Linked DNA regions of Homo sapiens. The protein of the gene in region 1 purifies or fractionates together with the protein of each later gene. This does not show direct contact. Each region holds a gene or a part of one and is shown on either strand. Other genes may lie near its edges. The genes, in order: PCDHA7 and KLRG2.

Region 1 (3,917 bases):
CTGCTGGGAGAATGACCAGCTCCCCACCGCGCTGGAGCACACCAGAGTGGGCTTTACCAAACTACATGCGCCCTCAGAGGACGGCGCTGAGCACCGCAACGCCGTGTACAGCAGCAGGGTAAGCACCAACAGACTGGACACCGCGCAGATGGCGATGATCAGGTACACGTTGACATCCACCAGCTCGGTCTCTGGGCCTGCAATGCCCAACGATGCCCGCGACGACGCCTTTGGTGCCTGGCCGCTTTCCACCAGCGACACCAGCACGGTGGCTGTGGCTGTCAGCGAGGGCTCCCCGTGGTCCTTCACAAGCACCAGAAGGCGGTGGCGCGGTGCGTCCGTCTCATCTAGGGCTCGTGTCGTGCTGATCTCACCAGTGTACAGCCCCACGCGGAACGGGATGCTCGCACCGGCCGCCACCGGTTGCAACTCATACGAAAGCCACGCGTTGTAGCCTGAGTCAGCGTCAACTGCACGTACCTTCGCCACCACATGGCCCGCGCCCACAGACCGCGGCACAAGCTCTCTCACTGCGCCACCAGTGCCACCCACCCGAGGCGCCAGCAGTGCCGGCGCGTTGTCGTTCTCGTCCAGCACGAACACCTGCAGCGTCACGTTGCTGCCCAGAGGCGGCACGCCCGCATCGCGCGCGCTCACCTGGAACTGCAACAGCTCCAGCTCCTCGTGGTCCAACGGCTGCAGCGCGTACACCTTGCCGCTCTCCGCGTGCACTGACACGTAGCTCGACAGCGCGCGCTCGCCCACCCGCAGCTCCACCAGCGAGTAGGACACCAGCGCGTTCTTCTGCGCGTCCGCGTCCCCCGCCGACACAGTGAAGATGTGGCAGCCCGGCGGGTTGTTCTCCTTCACGAACACCGTATACTCGGGCTGCGCGAACGCCGGGGCGTTGTCGTTCACGTCGGCCACCTCCACGGACACGCTAGCAGTGGCCCACAGAGAAGGCGAGCCCCCGTCCCGCGCGGTAACCACCAGCTCATAGGCGGACACACTCTCGCGGTCCAGAGCGCTGTCCAGCACCAATGAATAGTAATTCTTGAAGGTGGACACCAACTTGAAGGGAACGCGGGGCGTCAGGGAGCAGGTAACCTGTCCGTTGACTCCAAAATCTCGGTCAAACACGCTAATCAATGTGATGACGGTACCTGGTTGGGCGTCCTCTGGAATAGGGAGAGACAGGGAAGTGAGAGTCAACTGTGGAGCATTGTCATTTACATCCACAACTTCCACAAGAACTGTACAATGACCAGCCAGGGGTGGGAAGCCTTTATCGACAGCCTCGACTGGGATCTTGTGTGCTCTACTTTCTTCAAAATCCATATGTCCTATCACTGTGATTGCCCCACTTAAGGGGTCCATGTGGAACTTGGATTTTATATCTGGAGAAACATCACTGGAGAAGGAGTAAATAATATCCCCATTCAAGCCTTCGTCTAAATCTGAGGCATTGGGGTGAATCACCAGCGTTCCGATAGAAACGTTTTCTGGTAATTTCACCGTATACAGGGTTCTGTCGAACACTGGGGCATTGTCATTGTTGTCCAGTACCGTGATGAGTAATTGAACGGTGCCAGTCAGCTCGGGTTTGCCTCCATCGGTGGCCGTGAGCAATAAATGAAGCTCCGGAGTTTCTTCTCTGTCTAAAAGTTTCCGTAATACAAGTCCAAGAGGTTTTACCTGCTGGTTGCTGGTTGGCACGTCCAGGAAGAAATACTCATTGGGGCTCAGTCTGTAAGTGAGCAGGGCGTTCTCCCCGATATCTGCATCGGACGCGCCCTCTAGTGGAAACCGAGAGTCAAGCGGCCTGGATTCCGCGATGAACAGATTCCTTTGTGTCGCTGGGAACACCGGAGGGTTGTCGTTAATGTCCTTCACCTCCACGTCCACATGGAAAACCTGCAGCGGCCTTTCCACGATCACCTCCAGGTGGATGCTGCACTCCGCGCTCCGCCCGCACAGCTCCTCGCGGTCGATCCGAGAATTCACAAACAAAATGCCATTCTGCAGATTTACCTCCAGAAGATCCCCACGGAATTTGCACACCGCCCGGAACAGGCGCGGCACCAGCTCCGCCAGCTCCAGCCCCAGGTCCTGCGCGATGCGGCCCACGAAGTTGCCATGTTTAGCCTCCTCGGGGACCGAGTAGTGGAGCTGGCCTCTCCCTGCCTCCCAAGCTGCTAGAATTATAATAAACAGCAGTAGATGTCGGCCCCCTGGGTCGTATCCATTCGGGCACACCATTTCAAATTATTGGCTTGTTTTTCTAGTCAGCAAAACTTGCCTTCGAATTTATAGGAATGTTTTTATCCCTTCATTTCAATCTCGATGTGTGGCCATTGTTGTGCATCCAAAGAGTGAAAGAGAGTGGAGCGTCTTTCCAGTGCGAAAAGGAATGACTTCCTTTTGCTGATTACGAAAGAATTTGCGGTAAAGAGCGACATCATGTGGCCATCATGTAAGTAAGAATTACAAACCATTACAAACTATTAATCAGATGAAAAGTTTTATTTCAAACTCTGAATTTTTTTCTTCATTGTTGTTAAAGGTTAAAATAGCATTTCTCATGATTGTTAGAAGCATTCTTAGGCGACTGATGGCTTTTGAATACTCAGTGTTACCAGAACTGTAGCTTCCTCATGCCTTAGAAAAACTTTTTTTTCACACAGTTTTAAATAAAGATAGAAACCTAAGTGACAACATGAATTTAAACAACTGCAAGTTTAAATTCCTTTGATCTAGATCCCAGGAAACTTCATATTCTTGATTCAGTATCGCTTGTTAAGAAAAATCCTGTACTCTTTTAGGGACCCAGGATCTCAAGAATCTACTGATTGATGAAAGAGAAACTTAGAAAGCGGTGTGTGTGTGTGTGTTTTCTTTTTAGGAGGCAAGAAACATTAGCAACTATCCAGACACTTCTCTTGGGAAAACAAAATAAGAGAAGGTTTGGGGAATCTTTGAAGGGGAAGAATTTGTATCATGTGAACTTTTTGAGGAGGAAGTATTCTGAATTTTTTGCTTTAGCAGAATCTATATATACTGTTTCAGGAGTTCATCATTTTATATTTGTTTCCTCATTCTATCCTTTCGAACACTTGTGTGTTATGAATATATGCCTATTTTTACAATCTCAAATATGATTTGTATTATTTCTTTTAAAATGTAAGTTTATTTTATTAGATAAATTTCAGTGCTCAGCCATCTCACATACAGCAGCCCTTTGATCAAGTCTTGAGGTATTTCATCCTTTTTGGATCTACCTTACTGTGTTCGTTTTCTGGAATGTTTCACTCCAATGTTCCCAATGGCATGTAAAATAATTATGTCTGTATTCAGATGCTTTCCTAAATAAGTTTTTATAATTGCTGCTCTCCTGGTGTATTGCAGTAGCTTCTTATTGTGTAACCTGTCCATTCCTATTTCATTCTCCTTCATTTAATCCTTGCAGTCATCTTCCGTTAATACTTTTTATTCGTATTGCTTCACACTTTTTGACAGCTTTCAAATGACTTTGAAGAGTGTCAAAATTACTCGTCTAGTACTCAAAGTTATACAAAAGGTTTTTCTCATATTACTTTTCTTGCTTTATATCACACTCTCTCTTATGGGAACCATGTGCTTTACCCAAAGTGGACTATTCCTCATTTCTAGGTACATTTGGAATTTTCTGTATACTCACTTAAGTTACTCTCTTCTCATGAATACCTGTTAGTCTCCATATTCTCCCAGGGAAAACTCTTTCCATTTTATAACCAGTAAAACATCATGACTCTTCACGGTCTCCTTCAACAAGGGAAAAAGGCAAAGATTTTTTTCCAATTCCAATAACACTATGATGTACCTTTCTAGCACCTCTTACAATATTCTTGCTTTTACTATCATCGTATTTATGTAGGATA
Region 2 (3,817 bases), on another chromosome or scaffold:
TCTGCACATGTACCCCAGAACTTAAAGTATAATAATACTAATGAAAAATACAGTGTGAGAAATTTCTCCCATCTAGGACTCTCCATCCCATTCTCCCAGACGGCCCATTACTGGTTCAAACGCACCAATAAGGATTTCTGTTTGGGAGGGATCTGGGTGCATGGTCTGACTTTTGAGGGAAGGCTGGCTTGCAAGGGCCAGTTGAGTGCGTGCTCAGCACCAAGCCAACACGCAGGCCCAGGCTCCTGCTGTTTGGAGGTCTAGCTGGACTCAAGGAACTACACAACTCTGTCAGCCACATCCTCCAGCCTGAAGGTCTTCACTGCACCCCAGCATGGAGACATCTTCAGGTTGGTCGTCTCTGCAGCTGTGGGTAGAAGAGCTGCCTGGAACGTGCCTGCATTTCTCTGATTTCCTTTTTCACTCAGACTCCTCAGCTTCCACCTACCAAGCTGGGGTGCTCTCCTGGCTTCTCCTGCCAGGTGGCCCTGTCCTCTCTGCCTTGTCTCACCCTTGGGCATCAGCGTGCCAGGGGCTGGCCAGCCCACATGCGGGATCTCCACCCAGAACCTTCCTGTCTGCCAACCCTTTGCCAACTCTCAGGGTGGGGAAGGAAAACCTTGCTCTCCCCTCTTTCCAGGGCTGACCGCTCCTTTTCCTTGGTTAATTTTCCAGAGGCTGCCGGTAGGCTGTGTCCGATGTACACCCAGCTGCCTGAAGTAGAATTCACAGCAATGACGTTATCCCTGCCAAGTCCCACTGCCACTGAACAACGGCAGACTCATTTCCATGAGCCGGAATGAGAACCCAGATTGGAATCCGCTGTGGTTGTTAACCCTGTCTTTTTCCTCTAGGGGGAAATTGTCATTTTAATGAAACCAAGGCACAGAAATGCTAAACAACCATCCCAATGTCATCAAACCGATCATCCACAGAAGCTGGAGACTAATATTGGCACTCAGGCCTGAGGCCATAGAAAATCTCCTTTCCCTCGGATGCATCTTCCTGGGTTGAAGTCCAGCTCCTAGGCTCGCTCATGTGGCCCCCTTGAGCAGAGCATGAAGACCTGGATAACTGGGTCCAGGAAGAGGCTGCCCAAGCTCTCAACTGGCCTCCCCTGTAGGGGGTGCTGCATCTGCCTGGCAGGCTGAGGACCAGGCAGAGCCCAGATCACTGGGTCCCCTTGGCACAGACCCAGGGTCTTGGAGTGCTGCAGTTTGCAGCCACCAGCGTGCCTTCCTCCAGGGCCCCACAGTTGATATCCAGATTGTCCTCGCCGTCCTCAGGGAGTCTGGGAAAGGATGGGAGGGGAAAGAGGAGAGGTGTTTAGGGTGCCGGGGCCTTGCTTCCCAGCCAGACCCTCCAGCGTGTGTGCCTGTCACCTCTACCGGCCTGGGCACTGAGTGAGTCACTGCACTGGTCAGCCACGTGGCACTGGATGAATCCCCAAACCTCCCTGGGCAGCTGACCCCGCATCTGTAAAATGGGGGTGACAACCCTGCTTGGGTGAACGTGCTGGGAACCCAAATAAAGAGTGAAGCGACAGGGTCTAATCAGGCACCAGGCCGCGAGCATGGGCGTGGGCTGCTTTCCAAGTGGCATTCCAGGCTAGGGGAGCAGCAAGGAGGTGGAGTCTGGGGAGAAATGGAGGATCCAGAACAGCAGAGGAGGGAGAAAAGCCCGTGGTCACTCACAGCTGGGGCGGGAGTGGGGCCTCGTCGATCCAGTGCCAGCCCTGGGGGCCTCGCCAGGCCCCCACCCAGGAGTGCCTGGAGACTGGGTATCTGCCCAGGAAGTCCTGAGGGAGAAAAGTAAGCTGGTCACTCCCCTGGACACTGGCGTGGCTTGCCTGGGGCGTACGGATTCCCTGGGGCTTCCACAGGATCCCAGCTGGCCAATCCAGAAGGATCTGCTCAAGCCAGCACTTGCAGAACAAAAAAACCTTGAAAGCTGGATTGGATGCCTGCTGGGTGCCAGGTTCTGTGCTCAGGGCTGGGGGCCAAAATGAGGGTGACCCCGTCTCAGCCAAAGGGATGTGAACGCCAAACACCACTAAGTGATGCTCAGTGGGCATTGAGTGGGCAAAGAAACAAGGAAGCTCAGAAAGCGAGGGAGGTGGTCAGGCACGGTGGCTCATGCCTGTAATCCCAGCACATTGGGAGGCCGAGGCTGGCAGATTACCTGAGGCCAGGAGTTCGAGACCGGCCTGTCCAACATAGTGAAACCCCGTTTCTATTAAAAAAAAAAAAATTAGCTGGGCATGGTGGCGGGCGCCTGTAATCCCAGCTACTTGGGAGGCTGAAACAGGAGAATCGCTTGAGCCCAGGAGACAGAGGTTGCAGTAAGCCGAGATTGCGCCACTGCATTCCAGCCTGGGCTGACAAGAGGGAAATTCTATCTCAAAATAATAATAATAATAATAATAATAATAATAATAATAATAATAATAACACACGCAGATGTGCAGGAACAACAAAAACCAAAGTAAGTGTGCTGGAGAGGTACTAGAGGAGACTTTTTTCTTTTAAATATTTGCCCTCAATGTCACACTATTTTTAACAATGAATTAAAGCAAAAAAGACAATGTTTTAAAGTATATATTTAAGATTTTTTTTTTTTTGAGATGGAGCCTTGCTCTGTCACCCAGGCTGGAGTGCAGTGGCACGATCCTGGCTCACTGCAGCCTCCGCCTCTCAGGTTCAACCGATTCTCCCGCCTCAGCCTCCTGAGAGGCTGGAACTACAGGCATGCACCACCACACCCAGGTAATTTTCGTATTTTTAGTAGGGAAGGGTTTTGCCGTGTTGGCCTAGGCTGGTCTTGAGCTCCTGGCCTCAAGTGATCTGTCCATTTTAGCCTCCCAAAGTGTAGAATTAGTGGTGTGAGCCACTGTACCCGGCCAAGATTTTTTTTTTTTTTTTTTGAGACAGAGTCTCGCTCTGTTGCCCAGGCTGGAGTGCAGTGGCGCGATCTCGGCTCACTGCAAGCTCTGTCTCCTGGGTTCACGCCATTCTCCTGCCTCAGCCTCCCGAGTAGCTGGGACTACAGGCACCCGCCACCATGCCTGGCTAATTTTTTGTATTTTTAGTAGAGATGGGGTTTCACCGTGTTAGCCAAGATGGTCTCGATCTCCTGACCTCGTGATCCGCCTGCCTCGGCCTCTCAAAGTGCTGGGATTACAGGCGTGAGCCACCGCGCCCGGCCAAGATTTTTTAACTTGGAAAAAAAAGTTTAAATCTTTTAAGTCCCAGGGTGGGGACGTGGTGGAGGGGGCAGTGATGCCGGCACGGCCCGCATCAGCTTGTTCTTTCTGAAATGTCGTTTGGTGCTATGTGACAAGAGCAGCACCACCACTCCTGCTCAAATGGGTGATTTCACTGAGAAATAAATCCAAGAATATAAAGGGAAAAAAATGAACTTATCTAAAGATAACACGGTGCTATTTGTGAAGAAAAACTGGAAACTCCCCAAACGCTCAGCAATCAAGAAATAACAAGGTAAATTATAGGATGTCAACATGATGGAAAATTATAGTGCTATTAAAAATGACAAGTGTATAGAAAATGTCATTATGCAGGAAAATGTAAATATGAAATCATGCCATGTAAAAAAAAAAAGACTACACTAGCAAGTACATATCACTCACAACAATGTCAAGAAGCACATATTCACACTGAGGCAGGTTAGGAGCAGAGCGGTATAAATGAATTTCGCATATGCTCAGTTCTTCTTCCCTAAGAAAATGGTTTAAGTCAACAAAGACAAGCCCTGGGAATTAGAGTGATGATTGTCCTGTTGCTGCCACCTCCTCCATCCT

Evidence for each region.
Region 2: the proteins of PCDHA7 (region 1) and KLRG2 purify together in Homo sapiens (affinity purification with mass spectrometry; one large-scale study listed by BioGRID and IntAct). This does not show direct contact.

What each region holds. Positions count from the first base shown.
Region 1 is NC_000005.10:140,832,726-140,836,642, reverse strand, and holds the start of PCDHA7 (protocadherin alpha-7 isoform 1 precursor), read right to left. Parts: upstream 2,375-3,917; 5' UTR 2,260-2,374; coding exon 1-2,259. UniProt on the Homo sapiens protein: Calcium-dependent cell-adhesion protein involved in cells self-recognition and non-self discrimination. Thereby, it is involved in the establishment and maintenance of specific neuronal connections in the brain.
Region 2 is NC_000007.14:139,452,417-139,456,233, forward strand, and holds the end of KLRG2 (killer cell lectin-like receptor subfamily G member 2), read right to left. Parts: intron 1,799-3,817; coding exon 1,695-1,798; intron 1,292-1,694; coding exon 1,171-1,291; 3' UTR 274-1,170; downstream 1-273.